Regions from separate parts of the Homo sapiens genome. Here all the other regions are linked to region 2. Evidence: fine-mapped expression QTL. A gene starts in region 2. Each other region holds a variant in brackets. All regions are shown on one strand. Distances are from middle to middle.

Region 1 (6,052 bases), 73 kb before region 2:
CTCTGCTCAGGGTGAATTCAGAGAGCAGGCTCTGAATGGGCCCAGTACTCCCATTCATGTGGGGAGCCTTCTGTTTGGCAGCCCTGAGTGTCGTGTGACCAGACTAGGTGGCCCACTGGACCTGTTTAAGTCTGGATGTGGCAGGGTGAGCAGCCACATGCCCCTGTCCTGGGTCACTTAGCTCTCTGGGGAAGTCTCTTGCTCAGTACTTACCATGTTCCATTGTCATCATCTGCTTTTCAGGCTGCTTTTGAGATCCTGGGGCCAGGGCTGCCGTTAACCCAACTAGGAGCTTCACTCAATTTGTAATGCTCTTCCGCCTCTGGTTAGCGTCAGCTTCATAGACACATCTTGGCTTGTAGAATTTGTGCAATGTAGCCAGGGTCAGGGCCAAGGTTTATGAGCAGAACTTGGGCTAAATTTCAAGCCTCATCCTCCTTTGCCCTCTGCAATGGATGAGGCAATTTTGTGCAGTGCTCAAGCTGGGCAACCACACACAACAGCCTTGTCAGGGGCTATGTCTCCATCTCTGGCTCACAATTGCATAGCATAGTGCCTGAACATGACCTTGAGTAATTTGCTTAACCTCTTTGAGTCTTATCTCATTGCCTGTAATACAGTGGTTTTAATAAGACATTACCTCATGGGATTTTTATGAGAGTAAAATGGTCAGAACATGAAGAACAACGGCCCTGTGGTCAGATTCCCTTAGGTCCAAATTCTGGCTCTGTCACTCAGAGGTATGGCTTTGGGCACGTTCCTAAGTCCTCTGAACCTCAGTGTTCTCAACTGGGGATGATAATAGTGTTTACCTCATGGTGTTATTGGGGAGATTAAATAAGAATACGTTTAGAATACATATTTTAGAATCTGGCATGTATCAAATATTCATTCAGGTTTAGCTATTATTACATTTAGCTTTTATGTACAGCTCCTAGAGTAGTTCCTGACATACAGTAACTGATCAAAAAATGGTAACTATCAGGTGATACATATGATCAAATACAAATGATACATAAATGGATGTGGAACAAACTGAAGCAGGATGTTCAGTCCTGAGAGAGCAGACATGTCTTTGTCCACATGACTCCTTTTGGTAACTGTTCTCCTCCCCCACTCCATGAGCTCCTGGAGTAACTCTTACACCTCTGCCTCAGGAGTAACCTTGGGCCCCACACTAGCTGATCTTAGTACTCCATCTCTGAGCACAGCAATTTGCTCAGGCGTGGGCAAGGACCCAAGAAGACCCCTTGGAGTCACCCTTGAATAATGATGCATGTCTGCTGGAGAAGACAGGGCCTCTTTCTCTGAAATTGTGGATAATAGTGCTTGAGGCTCAGGGTGTCACCTAACTGCCAGTGGACAATTTGCCCACCTTGTGGAGAGAGGCTGCGTTACCCACCACTGGAGAAAAAGCAGAGCTGAGCAATGGAGAAGAGAGGGCCTTAATGCCATTGTTTTAATCCTAGATCTAGCCATACCTGAAGCTGTCCCTGCACTTGGACTTCCCAGCCAGATGATCCTCTTATTTCCACTTTTGAGTAAAGTTATTTCAAATTAGCCTTCTTTCATTGGCAGTGGAAAGGACCATCTTACTCAAGGGAATGTCTGATGAATAGTAGTAATAATACTTACAAGATTGGATAACATTTATTGAGGCTTACTAGATGCTAGGCACTCTTCTAAGTGCTTTGCATGTATTAACTTATTTAGACTTTGTAACTGTTTTAGGTAGGCATGTTACTCCTATTTTACAGATTAGAAAACTGAGTTTCATAAAGATTTCTTGGCTAATGATTACAGTCAGGATTCAAACATATTATTTATTTATTTATTATTATTATTATTTTTTTGAGACAGGGTCTCACTCTGTTACCCGTGCTGGAGTGCAGTGGTGCAATTTCGGTTGACTGCAACCTCGACCTCCCGGGTTCATGTGATCCTCCTACCCCAGCCCCCCAAGTAGCTGGGACTACAGACACACACCACTACACCTGGCTAATTTTTGTATCTTTTGTAGAGAGGAGGTTTTGCCATGTTGCCCAGGCTGGTCTTGAACTCCTCGGTTCAAGGGATCCATCTGTCTCAGCCTCCCAAAATGCTAGGATTACAGGCATGAGCCACTGTGCCCAGCCTAGTATTCAAACTTAGGCATCCAAGGGAGCAATGGACCATCCAAAGCACTGGCCTTATAATGTCTTTCAAGTATCATTAGCATGTCTAAAACATTTTGAATTGAATTTTAAATGTAATTTTATCAGAACTAGTTTATTTTAGAAAATAAATATTGCCATGCACAATCATACTTTGTGTTTGGCCAGAAGGGGCATTCCTGTGTTTGCTTAATTACTTTATTTAGCACATGTGACCCTCAGTGATATTTAGCTGTTCACACAAATCAAATATGCCCTTCAAACACAAAGGAATGTAAATTACATAGAAATGTAATTTACAAAGAAGAATGTAAATTAGACTCTCCAGGTGAGCCTAAAAGGCAGACTTCCAAACCTGTGTTGTCCAAGGCTTTTGAAGACAACATTTGGATACATAAATTACAGTATGCAATTAAAATCTCAATCAGATCACGCTATGTTCACACATATTACTTTGTCTTTTACCTGTGTTTCTGACAAAAGTAAGGTATCAGCCACTTGCAATAGGGGGTAAGGTAACTCTAGCTGGTGTCCAGAGGGTGACCCATTTCCTCAGATGACCCTGAGGAAAGCCACCGAAATAACTCGAGAAACATAATGTTGAGATTGAGACTGAAATCGTCCATTGATGTGGCTGGTAACTGCCAGAACAAAACTTTCCATTGAAATTTAATTTTTTCCCTCTTTGCAGAAATGGTATTTTTTTTCCCTTTGCAATTAGAAACCTGTGGGGGAGATAATGTTGCACCATCCACATATCCTTGTCTGCAGCAATTTTTCACTGAATGGCTGAGTCCTTAAGGACAACAACCTTATCCGTCTTGCATGCTCAAGGGCAACTCAAGACAGCTTCATATCACTATTGCTAAAATACCTTCAACACACTTTGTTTTTTGTATTTCTTATGAATCCTAGGTTACAAGTGTTCATTTGGCTATTTGGCTGTTCTTCAAAAACAGCACAAACTTGCTCAATGCTGATGGAGAAGTTCTGCAAATATGTGTCAACA[C/T]TTCCTGTCAGGGGCAGCTGGAAACACTCAGCTTTGCTATGCAAACCTCCTTTCCTTTCCACCAATACCTAGAGTTTTCAAAATAACTTACAAAACAGGTAGGATTCCATTGTGTCCTCCTTATATAGGGGGTTTCAACTCTGATTAAATTTTAGAATCATCTGGGGAGCTTTAAAACTATATCCTGGTCCAAATTTAGATCATTGGATCAGAATCTATAAGGGAGAAGCCAGTATAAGTATGTTCTAGAAGCCTCAAGATGATTGAATTGGGCAGCCCAGGTGGGAACCACAGAAAAAGAAGCCACTTCAGGCAGGGAAAGTAACTGTAATGTCTCCGTTTAACATCAAGGCACTATATACCTTCCTCCAGAATATTGGTTGCTCAACTTTGCCGCACATTAGAATCACTTGGGGAGCTTCTGAATTCCTGATGGCCTGGTTGCATCGCCTGCCAATGAAATGGCAATGCCTGGGCATGCAAACCCGGCATCAGAATATTTTAAAGATGCCAAATGATTTAAATGTACAGCTACATTTTGGAACCACTGCTCCAAAGACTGTCTTCTGAAAAGGCACTTACAATTTGCTTGAAAGAATTCAAGAACCAAACAGTTCTGCTGCTTACTACCTATATGATCTTTTAGCCTATATTTCCTTATTAGAAAGAGAGAGATAATAATGCTAACTTATGGTTGTGTTGTCTGGGCTGAAGGAGAATATATTTACAGCACATAATTGTACCTATCTTATCCCTTGTATTATTTTTCTATTGCTGCCATAACAAATTACGGCAAAGTTAGTGGCTTAAAACAACACAGGTTTATTATCTTACGATTCTGGAGGCAAAAAAATTCAAAATGGGTCTCACTGGGCTAAAATCCAGGTGTGGGCAGGACTGCCTCCCTCTCTGGAGGCTCTAGGGGAAGGTCTGAGTTCCTGCCTTTTCCAGCTTCTGGAGGCCAGCCGCATTCTGTGGTTTAGGGCCCCCTCCCATCTTCAAAGTCACCATGGCCTGTAGCCTATCTCACATTCCATCACATCGCCTCTGAGCCTCCCTTTTTCACACTGAAGGACCCTTGGGATTATACTGGGCCCCTCCAGACGATCCAAGAGAAACTTCCTGTTGTAAAATAGCTGATTTGCAACCTTCATTCCCCTTTGCCATGTGTATTAGTTCATTCTCACGTTGCTATAAAGACATACCCGAGACTGGGTAATTTATAAAGAAAATAGGTTTAATTGACTCACAGTTCCACATGGCTGGGGAGGCCTCAGGAAACTCATAATCATGGCAGAAGGGAAGGGAGGCACATTTTACATGGTGGCAGGTGAGAGAGAAAGCAAGCAAGAGTAGGGAAAACTGCCTTATGGAACCCTCAGATCTCGTGAGAACTCACTCACTATCCCAAGAACAGCAGTCAAAAACCGCCCCCATGATCCAATCACCTCCCACCACGTATCTCCCTAGACACTTGGGGATTACAGGGATTACAATTCGAGATGAGATTTGGGTGGGAACACATAACCAAACCATATCACCATGTAAGGTGACATATTCACAGGTTCTGGACATTGAGAGGTGGCCATCTTTGGGAGGCCATTATTTTGCCTCTCACACCCTCATACCTTTTCCCTCTGATCAGGACACAAAATGTAATTGCAGGTTTATGTCAATTGATATCTTACAAATACATGAGAATCTTATTAACGTTTTATTAGCGTGAAAACAGCTAAATGATACCTATTGCTTTTATTTCTTTTATTATTGGTATTTCTTTTATTATTTGTCTAACAGATTCCTTCCCTGCTGTCTGTTGAAGTGACAGGCTTAGGCACCCTTGTATGTGACTTGATCTTCTGAATAGTCACAGTCAACTGGACCACGGGTAGCCCCTGACCCCTGGCGAGACCATGAACTGGCTTGTGAGCACTTCTTTAGAATTTTTCTTAAGAACTTGAGGTAAAGATTGGCTCTAGAGTGCAGCAATAACTAACTACAATTATCCATACCTCTTACCTAACTGGTTTTGCTGCAAAAACCTTTAATGGCAAAAACCGCAATTACTTTTGCACCAATCTAAGAATTAGAACTGGAGGCTGGGCGTGGTGGCTCACACCTGTAATTCCAGCACTTGAAAGGCCAAAGCGGGCGTATCATTTGAGTTCAGGAGTTCGAGATCAGCCTGGCCAACATGGCGAAACCCTGTCTCCACTAAAAATAAAAAAATTAGCCGGGTGTGAGTGGCATACACTTGTAGTCCCAGCTACTCTGGGGACTGAGGCAGGAGAAACACTTGACCCCGGGAGGTGGAGGTTGCAGTGAGCTGAGATCACGCCACTGCACTCCAGCCTGGGTGACAGAGCAAGACTCTAACTCAAAAAAAAAAAAAAAAAAAAAAAGAATTAGAGCTGGAATTGGCAACATGGTAATTCAATGCCATATACAAGTCAGAATCTGAAAGGAGCAAGAACCACCAGAGCACAGAGGAAGAAGATTTCTGGAGAACTGAGAGAAGCTGAGATGTGAGACATTTTAGCCTCCAAAAGAAAGGTGCTTCCGTTTTTTTCTTTTTCTTTTAAGAAAATTCCTGTTCCCATAGCCTTGGCTGTCTTTTGGAAAAAATGTTTAGAATGAGTTATTGAAAACTAAAACTTGTGACAGCAAAGAGAGTTAGAGAGCTAAATTATGAGTTCTAAAGGTTTTTATAAAGTCATCACAGCTTTTTTGTTTTCTGATTTTTTTTGAGACTGAGTCTCGGTCTGTCGCTCAGGCTAGAGTATAGTGGTGCGATCTCGGCTCACTGCAGCCTCTGCCTCCTGGGCTCAAATGATTCTCCTGCCTCAGCCTCCCAAGTAGCTGGGATTACACACCCACGCCACTACCGCCC
Region 2 (6,052 bases):
TGTTATGGAAAGTTTAGGAAGAGAAATTTCAGAGCCCTGGGTTTCAACCCTGGCTCATAGTAGATATGTCAGGCAGATCACTTAACCATCTCTCATCTGTAAAACAAAGGGCCTGGTAGATAATGGGTAAGGCTTAAGTACTAGATTTTTATATTTGAAGAGCCATAACAGATATACAATTCAAATGTGTTGTTAAAAATGATCCCGTCTTTCTTTTTTTTTTTTCTTTTTTTCTTTTGAGACGGAGTCTCGCTCTGTTGCCCAGGCTGCAGTGCAGTGGCACAATCTCGGCTCACTGCAAGTTCCGCCTCCCGGGTTCACGCCATTCTCCTGCCTCAGCCTCCCGAGTAGCTGGGACTACAGGCGCCCGCCACCACGCCTGGCTACTTTTTTGTATTTTTAGTACAGATGGGGTTTCACCGTGTTAGCCAGGATGGTCTACGATCTCCTGACCTCGTGATCTGCCTGCTTCGGCCTCCCAAAGTGCTGGGATTACAGGCTTGAGCTACTGCGCCCAGCCAAAAACGATCCCATCTTTTTAATACTAAGTCCAATCTGTGGGAAAAGAGTGAAACATGATTCAATTTTGAAATGACATTTTACATTTTGATTAGATTTCTTGATTCAAGCATTTTGTTACATTCTAACTTACAAAACCAGAGCTGGCTTTATAAGTGTGTGACCTGTGCAACTGTGTGTTTAGGAGGGCTCCACAATCGATTTAATGTTGTGTTGTTGCCATCTTGAAATTCTTAACGATTTTTGAACAGAAGGCCCTGCCTTTTCATTTTGCATTGTGCCCTGCAAATTTTATAGCTGGTTCTGGCTACAACTTCTAATTTATAGTTTAATTTCTAGGTCCGGGATTCTCTCCTGTTTTAGTTAGAAATCCACATGGATCGCTTTCCTCCGCACACATTCTCAATGTTTATGTTGATATAAAACTAGCAAAGGCTGCCTGCTAAGACTGCCAGACTGTAGGATGCGCTGCCAACTGAGCGCAGGACGCGCAGTGCCCTCCTTGGGCTTCAAAGGGCAGGGGCTCCATCCTTCAGCCTCAGCCATCTGTACTGTAGTGGCCTGAGCTTCTGTCACTGGCAATTCCCACATCAATGCAATGTTTGTAATAATAGTCCAGCAGACTGCGTGGAGGACTCGGTGAGAGAATAAATAGTCCTCTGAAAACTAGAGGTTATCAGTCACCTCAAGGATGAGACCCATCCTGTGAAAACCCACAGCCTCCATGCACCCCCTCTTCTTGCTGGTGTTGAGTATTTGCTCAAGTCCTGCCCTAATTTCCTTCAAGCAAATGCTTGATGGCCCAGTAACAACAGTCTCTACAGGGCAGTAAAAAGGAACTATTCAGAGAGAGCCTCTGAGTCCTATTAATGCTTGTGAAGATGATTCAACTTCAGAAAACACTTCTGACCTCTTAGCGTGTGCTGTCTGTCCTCCATCCAGGCGCTGAGGGCACAGCAGCGAGCAAACACAATGACAATGAGATAATTACAATTTATCATGGTGGCCCAGACATCGTGGGTTTACTCCCTGGCCTCTAATAGTCACCTCGCAGAGCTGATGTGAGGATGTGAGGAGATAATAAGCGTCTGGGCATTGAAAGACCTACTTTGCGGGAGTATGCGCAAGGTGCAATACAAGCACACGATTAAAAAAAAAAGGCAAGTTGTTCCTGAAAATGCATAGAGGTATTTTCCCCAATAGGAGCAGCTTAAATGCAAACAAACAGAGGAAGAAATTTAAGTTATCTTTTCTGCTAATTTCCAAACAACAGAACGTGACATCCAGCACAGCATCACTCCCTAGATCTGCAACCGAGGGGAATGCTAGTGGATAGACATGCCAACAGCGAAAAAAGCCTGTGCTCACTCCAGTGCTGGCCGCTTCTGACTGTCCAGTGCTTCTCGGGGCGCGCTCCCTCTTTCTCTTCCCACGCCCGCCTAGTCCCAGCGACCGAGGGAGGTTGCACCCGGGCGACCCTCCCCCCGCCCCGGGCTCCCGCGTAATCCCGGCCCGGCTTGGAAAGGAAGCGGGCCTGGCAAGTAGAGGCACGGCCGGGCCACGGTGGGCAGGGCGCAAGGGCGGGGCTATAGCCTAACTGCGCCGCCAAGGCTGCTGCTGGGTTTGGAAAGGAAGCGGGAGAGGAGGGGTCGGGCTGAGCTGTGGGTGGGGAAAAGGGCGGGGCCATGGATGGGCCACGTGCCTTCTTAGGTGGAGTCCGGGGCTCGGTAGGGAGAGGCGGGGCCAAGCTGAGGTGGGTGGAGAAAGAGGGCGTGTCCATGGCCTAGCTACGCCGCTGAGGCTGCTGCGGGGTTTGGAAAGGAAGCGGGAATGGCAGGGAGAGGCGGGATCAGGCTGAGGTGGGCGGGGAGTCGGGGGCGGAGCCATGAGTGGACCTCGTGCCGGCTTAGGTGGAGCCCGGGGCGCGCGGGGAGAGGCGGGACCGAGCCGAGGTGGGTGTGGCGTGGGGCGGGGCAATGGCGGGGCGGGGTTCGCCGCTCCCTGGGGCCCAGCCCAGCCACTCGATCAGCCCGCCGGCTCCGGAGCGGCTCTGCCTTCCCGAGCGCGGGACGCGGCGCCCTGGGGGAGGAGGGCGAAGCGACGCGGCGATGGCTCCGCGGGCACTCCCGGGGTCCGCCGTCCTAGCCGCTGCTGTCTTCGTGGGAGGCGCCGTGAGTTCGCCGCTGGTGGCTCCGGGTGAGTGTCCGGTCGTAGCCGGGGCGCCGGGTGCTGAGCCCGGTCCCGGGAGCGCGGAAGGAAGCGAGGGGTCGGGACGGCAGCCCCGCGGCGTCCTGCTTTCTGGCACAGCCGCGGGATCCCGGCACTGAACAACTGGCTGTCCCGCGGCGGTCCGGGCAGGGCGCGGTGCGTGGCAACGGCTCCCGTCCCTCCCCTCCCGCGGGCCCCGCTCCCGCCTTCCCTCCCTGGGGCCTCCTCCGAGGATCTGTGTTCCCCAGCGCTGGGCAGTGCGGGGCGTAGGGACCAGGCCTTCTTCGGGGGCGCTTCCTCCACGGCCGCTCGCCTCGGAACCCCGCGGACCCGTTTCCCGCCGCCCTTGTCCTCAAAGGCGCCGCGAGCGGAAGATCGTGACACAGAGCACCGGGTGCGCTGTCGGCGCCTCCTTCTCCCTTTTAAATACCTTAAAATATCCTAAAACCTGGAGGACTTTGAATCTCTTTCCACGTTTCCATTTATTTGGGTGGTTGATGGATTCTTGTAACAGGTCAAGGAGTCCACATTTCTTCCCATATATCCTGTATAAATCAGGCTCGGAAAAAGGGAAGGCGCGTTGGTAAACTTACATTTTTTTCTTCTTTTTGTTGATTCCTGTCGTCACGAAAGGAACCTTGTGTGGTCAGGGCAGGAAGCCACCAACAGAGATGCTAAAGTGTCACCAACGATGAAGCAGTTTTTAATTGAAATCAATCTTAAGAGGAGGTGTAAGTTTTATGGAAGTCCTATGTCACATCCTTGCTTTTATAATTACAGACACTAGGGATTCCTTACCACCGCTTCCCCTCTTAATTGCCACCTAACAGCTGCAGTTAAAAAAAAAACATACTTACTTGGCCATTTGGGGTTACTACAGCTGGGAATCTGACGTCAGCAAGCTCTTCCAAGCTTGATTTCAGCGGTGGTTCCTCCTCAGGCCCAAATAATAAGCAACTGGAAGCCTTTCAACAGTGACTGTCTCCTCCATAAACATCCATAAACTCTTCCTCCTGAGAACATTTCAGTCGCTTACAACTTTTACACTGACTTAGCAGTTTGGCCTTCACTTTTTCATAGAAACCAGAGCAGGTTGGAAGGGAAGGAGATGGATAATATTGTCTCCTGAGTCTTTTTAGCAGGCCCGTATTTCCGTTAGCCATCCACCTGGGGAAATGGCAGCTAGTGACATGTTTTACTGGATGGGACAATTTTTTTTTTCTTTTCCTTATTTTGATACAGGGGCTCATTTTGTCACCCAGACTGGAGTGCAGTGGCACAACCTCGGCTCACTGCAACCTCCAGCTCTCTGGTTCAAGTGATTCTCCTGCCTCAGCCTTCTGAGCAGCTGGGATTACAGGCATGTGCCACCATGCCCGGCTAATTTTTGTATTTTTAGTAGAGATGGGGTTTTGCCATATTGGCCAGGCTGGTCTCGAACTCCCGACCTCAAGTGATCCTCCTGCCTCGGCCTCCCAAAGTGCTGGTATTACAGGCATGAGCCACCATGCCCTGCTGGTTCATTTTGATTTTCATCCTGCGTTTGATTGCTGGGACACATAGGTGCATAATCAGGTTCCACTTGGATGTGAGGTTGGAGACATTCATTAGAGGGTTAGAGTCAGTTGCAACAGAATCTGGGGAAGAGTTTAATCTGGGAGTAAAATTATTAAAAATTCAGCACATGATGCATGTAATTAGCCATCATCAGCAGGAGAAATCCATCCCTAGAGTGGGTGTGTGTTTGGTTTGACCTCTGAGCAACACCCAGGTCTCAGGACTAGAATGTGACTGATGAAAGCTCTCATCTAATTGCATGACAGCCTTTTTTTTTTTTTGATGAAAATTAATGCGGAAGAAGAAACAGGTGTCTAAAAAGGAAAGGATACAGAGCACAAATTTGCCAGTATCTTGAGGCGTGTGTAAAGAGAAGATGCTCTGACCAGCCAACATCTGATCCCCTTGCAACCAAAGATGGTGTTAATGTTTGTACCTTGAGCATAGGGAAGTAGAGGGAAAGGAATGGGAAATACTGTTGAGTGCCTGCTGTGTGCCAGGCTTTGGGTTGAGTACTTTGTATGCATTTTTATTTTTATTTATTTTTTTCTTTTTGAGACGGAGTCTTGCTCTGTCGCCCAGGCTGGAGTGCAGTGGCGCGATCTCACTGCAAGCTCCGCCTCCCGGGTTCACGCCATTCTCCTGCCTCAGCCTCCAGAGTAGCTGGGACTACAGGCGCCCGCCACCATGCCTGGCTAATTTTTTATATTTTTAGTAGAGACGGGGTTTCACCGTGTTAGCCAGGATGGTCTCCATCTCCTGACCTCGTGATCCGCCCACCTTGGCCTCCCAAAGTGCTGGGATTACAGGCGTGAGCCACCGCGCCCGGCCGCATTTTTATTTGTTTATTTATTTTTATTTTTATTGTTTTTTGAGACAGAGTCTTGCTCTGACTCCCAGGCTGAGGTGCAGTGGTGCGATCTCAGCTCACTACAACCTCCACCTCCCAGGCTCAAGCAATTCTCCTGCCTCAGCCTCCCTAGTAGCTGGGATTATAGGCGCCCGCCACCATGCCTGGCAAATTTTTGTATTTTTTAGTAGAATCGGGGCTTCCCCATGTTGGCTATGCTGGTTTGTAACTCCTGACCTCAAGTGATCCGCCCTTCTCGACCTCCCAAAGTGCAGGGATTACAGGTGTGAGCCACCGCGCCCAGCCTTCATAGGCATTTTTAAACTCATTGCTCATAACCCTGTGAAATACTTACTTCCAGTAAGGCAACTGAGGCAAGAGAGGTTAAACAACTGGCTGAACATCACATAGGTACTGTGCCAGTCAGCATTCAGAGAAGCAGAACCACTAGGAGGTGTCTGTGTATGTGTGTACCTTTATATGTATCTTTATCTGGGATAACCCAGCCTGCTTGATTCCAAAGTTCATTCCCTTTCCACTGTACCCCACTGCTCTGCAGAGGAAAAATAGAATATGAGTCAACCTCTGCAATCTCGCTGAGATTCTAAGATAGTTTAGAACGTCATAAAATTGTAAGCATGTGGTTATCAGAAGTTGTCAAGTAGAGAAAAGAAGGGCAGATAGCTTCACGGTGGGTAGTGGCAATGCCTTTTTCACTTCCTTCCTAGTAGAAGAATCTCATTAAACTTGTCTCTTAGCAGCAGCATTCGAAACTATATACCACAAGCACCCAAAGGGATGATTTTCCACGTCTTGGCTTATTAATGTCCTTAAGTTCTCTGGTTACTCAACCTTCAGGTTTATTAGTTTCTCTCTCAGACAGTGGGCATAGCCCTCGAGTAAGGAGTGGGTGGAAGA
Region 3 (6,052 bases), 30 kb before region 2:
TTCCAATTATTTTGAGATAAGGTCTCCTCTATTGTGGGCTTCCTGTAAGGCTGATATAATGCCTAGGCTCCCTATAAAACTGAACTCTTTATAGGGAAACTAAGATTCTGAGAATCCTCATTTCTTAATAGAGAGGATCTAAGAAACACAGTCTTAAGATCTTTAGAGGGCTATTTCTTAGTTTGAAAGGCAAAGACTACTGTGAAAAACTACTATGAGGTCTTAACAAAGGATTTTACTGGCCACCCTCAGTTTCATCTTAAGACTATTTTCATTATCATGCCCTGGATTTGATCTCTGCCTGAAGCCATTTCTTAATTTTAGCACTGTTTGCCATCTGGAGAGGCTGGAAATGAGGAGCGATTTTATTTTTGAGCCCAACAAGTCCCAGCTCCGTTATACTTAAGAGTTTATCCTTTTCTTTATATAGTTTCTTTTCTCCTCACCTGTTTTACTATATACAGTGAGAAGAAGCCACGTAGTACCTACAACACTGCCTGGAAATGCCCTTAGCTATATTACCTAGTTCATTATTTTCTATTTTCAGTGGAACCACAGGTGAGAGTGTTACTAAACTTTGCATCACTGCATAATAACAGACTCCTGTCCTCCAGCTGTCCCAAACATTTTCCTCACTTCTTACAAGCTTTTGCCAACAGCATACTCAAGACCCTTTAGACTTCTATAACAGTTCCTAGGCTCATTCAGCTTCCGCCTAACTCCACATCCCTAAGCCACTGTCACATATTTTAGGTCTTGTTATGGCACACCCCGCTTCTACGTGCCAGACTTCCTGGTTCTTCATTGCTGAATAACACACTATCCCCCTCCCCATGTGGTAGTTTAGAATAATAACATTCATATATTTTGCTTATATGCATTTTGAGTAAGGCTTAACAGAGAAGGCTTTTTTCTCTCCCATATGGCATCAGCAGGGGTGACTCAACTACGGGCAGAAACAGTTGCTTCCAAGATGACTCGCTTACATGGCTGGAAAGTTGGAGCTCACTGTCAGCTGGGTAGAGCGATGGAGGTTGCCATTCCTATGCACATGGGCTTCTCCATATGGCTTATATTTCCTCACATTATTGTGGTTTGTTTCCAGGGTGAATGTCCCAAGAGAGGTAAAACTATGATCTTTTATTATCTAGCCCCAGAAGTCACATAGAATCTTGTCTGCCACACTTCATTAGTCAAAATAGTCACAGAGATCCATCTAGGTTCAAGGGAGGAACATAAACTGCACCTTTTTCTTTCTTTCTTTTTTTCTCTTTTTCTTTTTTTTTTTTTTTTTTTTCTGAGACGGAGTCTCGCTCTGTCGCCCAGGCTGGAGTGCAGTGGCACCATCTTGGCTCACTGCAAGCTCCGCCTCCCGGGTTCCCGCCATTCTCCTGCCTCAGCCTCCTGAGTAGCTGGGACTACAGAAGCCCGCCACCACAGCCGGCTAATTTTTTGTATTTTTAGTAGAGACGGGGTTTCACTGTCTTAGCCAGGATGGTGTCGATCTCCTGACCTTGTGATCCACCCGCCTTGGCCTCCTAAAGTGCTGGGATTTCAGGCGTGAGCCACAGCACCCGGCCAAACTGCACCTTTTTCAAATCAGGCAGTGGCAAGGTTTTGAATGAGTACATGGATAGGAAATATTGTCACAACCATCTTTGGAAAATATAATACGTCAGGCTTTCTTTTCACACAGCTAATTACATTTTATAGTTAATAAAGTTCTTAATTTTAATGAAGTTCAAATTATTAATCTTTTCTTTTGCAGTTAGTTCTTTGTGTTTGCTGTTTAAGAAAGCTGTGCCTACCTTAAAGTTACATTATCATACCTAATCCTCATCATCCTGTAAGGTAGGTACTCTTGGTATTATAGGTCTCAGTTTTGCTAGAAGAGGAAATTGAAGCACAGAGAAATTAAACACTTGATCAAGGCCTGACTCCAAGGTCTGTGTTTTTGCCTCTTACTGCACCCTGACTCCCTTGGTTTTTTAACCTTAGAGTGAACCCCAATTCCTGTTGGACCTATTCCTGTGAGGCCTGGCATCCCTGGGACCATCTCAGAGCTGAGTTTCCCTCTGAAAGCCTGTTTGTCTGTCTATATTTTCTTTCCACTCCTCTGGAACAAATACCTGATGAAAAACAAACTCTTTCAAGTTTCTAGATGACCTTGTAAGAAGCCATAAAAGAGAAGGCAGCTTCTGAGATACAGATGACTTAAACTAGGTACAAACTCAAAGGGTTTTTGTTTTGTAATGTTGCTGTCGTTGTTGTTGTTATTGTTTTTTGGTCTCCACACAGAAACATAGGATAAGAAAAAGGGAACTCATGGTTATAGTCTAAATGGCCCTAAAAGTGGGTTCCATTTTTAGTATTGAGTATAAATAGCTACACAGTTTTAAGCATAACCATTAGCGTGACTGTAAAACTACCTGTTCCAGTACTCCACCAGGTTGTTGTGAGGATAAAATGAGTCAATGGGCAGAAGTCAACTCCAAGGGCATGACTGTAATAATGCTTCTTTCACCTTGCTAAAAACATCACAGCCCCGCCAGGAGTCAGGTCAGCAGACAGCGTGGAGAACAGAGCCATTTGCTAGCCAGGGCATAGATTAGGAAAACTTTGTGGTCCAAATAATGTCATCATCCATAAACACCTATATTTTTATCTAAATTGCATTGCCAGGCATTTGGAAACCTGCCAACTTTTTGCAGCTGTTCCTTTCCTCACAAGAACAACTAGGTAATTTAAGTTAAATGACTCATTAGGAAAGGGAAGACGCAACTCAGGACTGTGCTGGTTCATTTCACAGTTTTTTTTGTTCATATAGATAAGAGGTGAGAAGTAGGATGGGGTTTTACAATTTGACTGCCTTTTGGCAGTTAAGAAAAATTTCAGTCCTGAATTATTTATGACATATAATGAGGCAAATAAGTTATTCTGGCTTCTTGATTTACTTAAAGTGACAATACAATTATTGTATTTACTCTCTAGTTGCTAAATGGCAAACTTGAAAAGTTCCTGACATCAAAAGAAAGTATCAGTTCTAATCAAGGCCAAATTGAAAAGTGGCTCATAGTTATTGAGGGCTATGTGCCAGGCACTTTTCTAAGGGCTATACAGTATTAGCCCATTCAATTCTCATGGCAGCTCCATGTGCTAGATATGATAATTTCCCATATTCCATGGATATGGAAAATGAAGGCCACAGAGATGTGGGGATCCAGAATTTCCACCAGTGGAATTGGATGCCAGAGCCTACCGTTGGAATCTTATGTTATACCATCTCTCCAGAAAATATAGGATTAAATGCTAAAATAGGATTAAATGCTAAAACTGATATTAAAAAGTAAGCCTAGAGATGGCTTACTCACGGCTGAAAGAGTTAAATAGGAAAAAAACCCTCAGGTTCTAGAGCTGGGGAGGATGGATGGTTCTTAGTGTCCGAGAGGAAGGGTTGGAGAACCAATCACTTCTGCAAAGAGAGAAAAGCCAGTTCCAAATTTCTTCCAATCCAAAAGATGCTCTTTCCCCGCCCCAAATCAGGGTAGGTGTAATAAATTTCCTCCTGCTGACACTGCAAGAGCAAATCCAGTAAAGTGATTGTGGGAAAAGTGGTAGTTGTGCAAGCATTTCACAAGGATTGTTTTTCATTGGAGGA[T/A]AACAATCCTCCTTAGGCATTCAGTCAGTGAAGATGTTGAGATACTTCAGATGGAGAGAAATTCTACACAATAACATTAAAAGCCGGGATACAAGGGTGTTACCACAGCAAGGCTAACAAGCTGGAACCTGAATGGCAATGGAAGCTGAAAAGGGAATAGCAAATGATATACACCAAAGCATTTGTTTAAAGGGGCATGAAGATAAGCCTTCAACCACATCAGGTGAAAGATTTTTTCCATTCATTAGTATGGAAAACTTGGAATGAACATCAGAACTGGACAGAACGGTAGTTATGGCGGATATATAGGTAGTTCCATTAATATCCCCTCTGAGCACTTATTTCCTGCCAGACTTGCAACTGCCAGAATTTGCAACCCTTTTGCCTAAGCCCTAGGGCTTTCTTGGACATGCAAAGGTGCTAGAGAATTCACTGCAACCATCACTGCCCCACCACCTCTCTAACACAGCACATACCCATTGTCCAGTAGCCTCCAACCAATGGCTGGTAGGAGGTGGCAGATATGTATTCTAGCTCCCTTGCCTCTCACCAGGAAACTCAGATGTGCTCTTCACTGTCCCCCATAGGTCCCTGCAGGATTCATCTCTAGTTAGACCTAGTGGCAACTTGCTTGGAAATAGTCATTTATTGGTTTCCTATGTCACTTCCCTACTCCCCTATTGGCATTTCTTGGGATAACCTCCCCCATTAAGCCAGCTGTCTCTGTGTCTACTTAAATTAGGGCTTAGTAAACGATATGTAATTCTTATTCCATATTATGTGTTTAGTCCTAATTAGGTAGTCCAGGTGTTGTTCCTGCCAGCTAATACCTGAACTGAACGGACTGAACAAATGTCCTACCAATTCTTGTGCTTGGCATTGGGACAGGTCAGGTTGGTAAGCTGGTGTCTTCTGATACAGGCTGTTCTGTCTGGGTTGCCTCAGCTTACACAGCTAACCAAATGTTTCATAGCACTTAATTTAATTTTTCCCAATCATGAAGAAATGTTGCCAGAATTATTTAATCAGTTTGACTGTCAGCTCCAAGACAGCAAGAAACGCGTTCATCTTCTTCATAGCTATGATAGCCCAGTTACCAGAAAAGAAGGCCAGCACATATTTAAAATATATTAATGAATGAATTTTAACAAAAGAGTAATTTTTAAATGGTACACTGGCAACCCATTTGATGTAATTTATTAAACTGAGCTTCTTAATAAAGAAGTCTGATAAAGATGTATGTTTATCAAAGACAATGTGTGTCATTAGACTAGGTAATATGTACGAAAGCTATTAGCAAGATATGAGAACCAAATATAAAATTTTAAGCCCCCCAATCAACTAATGGACTCCTCTCTTGGCCAAGGGCATTCCAAAGTAAACCTGAAAAATGAGTTGAGGTCATGGTAGGAAGGGGAGTTAGACATGCCCCATTATACTCACCTCCCTTTGGAATTCAAGCACAACTGACCACCAGAATTAACGTTGAAACAGAGGTCTTAAGACTACAAAACAGACCTTTGTAGCAATAAGCCACCAAATTCCAACCTGACTCTAGTAGAGCATCGCATGACAGATAGCAGGCTCTGAAAGAAATATTTTCCCCCAAAATATATTTATTTGACATATTTTGAAATGGTCCTGCAAAGCTGTCTCTTATAGGGAAAATATATAACTGTATCTTTTTTTTTTTTTTTTTTTTGAGACAGAGTCTCGCTCTGTCGCCTGGGCTGGAGTGCAGTGGCATGATCTCAGCTCACTGCAAGCTCCGCCTCCCAGGTTCACGCCATTCTCCTGCCTCAGCCTCCCGAGTAGCTGGGACTACAGGCGCCCGCCACCATGCCCAGCTAATTTTTTTGTATTTTTAGTAGAGACAGGGTTTCACCGTGTTAGCCAGGCTGGTCTCGATCTCCTGACCTGGTGATCCCCCCGCCTCGGCTTCCCAAAGTGCTGGGATTACAGGGGTGAGCCACTACTCCCGGCCCTATAACTGTATCTATATCTATAGATTTAAATGTTTGAAAGATACTATTTCACACTACTTCTCTCCTGAATCAGGGAAAATACCTGGAAAGGGAAGGGGATTCTGGCAGCTTTTAGGTCTGATGAGAGCTCTGAAGCGTGCTACCTGGAGGCTTCATCTGTATGATAAAACCTTGGTCTCCACAACTCCTTATCTTAACCCAGAAACTTCTTTCTATTGAGTCCAGGTCTTTAGATAATAACTCTTTCAACCAAATGCCAATCAGAAAAATCTTTGAATCCACTTATGACCTGGATTCCCCCACCCCCTAATCTGCCACCAATTCAAGCTGTCCCACCTTTCTGGCCTGAACCAATGCACATCTTATATGTGTCGATTAATTTTATGTCTCCCTAAAAAATGTATAAAAC

What was found. PIP is the estimated chance that this variant, and not a neighbour inherited with it, causes the effect. A credible set is the group of variants that fine-mapping cannot tell apart.
Region 1: its variant is the best candidate, but not a certain one, in a credible set for the expression of RELL1 in whole blood (TOPMed, PIP 0.79).
Region 3: its variant is the best candidate, but not a certain one, in a credible set for the expression of RELL1 in sun-exposed skin (GTEx, PIP 0.77).

What each region holds. Positions count from the first base shown.
Region 1 is chr4:37,755,433-37,761,484 of GRCh38, reverse strand. LOC105374406 (a long non-coding RNA gene) reads right to left here and starts at 438. Exons shown (of 3, transcript XR_001741505.2): 1 at 214-438. The variant C/T (reference allele first, on the strand shown) is at 3,163.
Region 2 is chr4:37,682,863-37,688,914 of GRCh38, reverse strand. RELL1 (RELT like 1) reads left to right here and starts at 2,539. Exons shown (of 7, transcript NM_001085400.2): 1 at 2,539-2,715. The coding sequence starts at 2,628. RefSeq lists silencers at 1,841-2,150, 2,331-3,000.
Region 3 is chr4:37,712,700-37,718,751 of GRCh38, reverse strand. It overlaps LOC105374404 (a long non-coding RNA gene), which reads left to right and starts at 3,666. Exons shown (of 4, transcript XR_925210.1): 1 at 3,666-3,881. The variant T/A (reference allele first, on the strand shown) is at 3,659.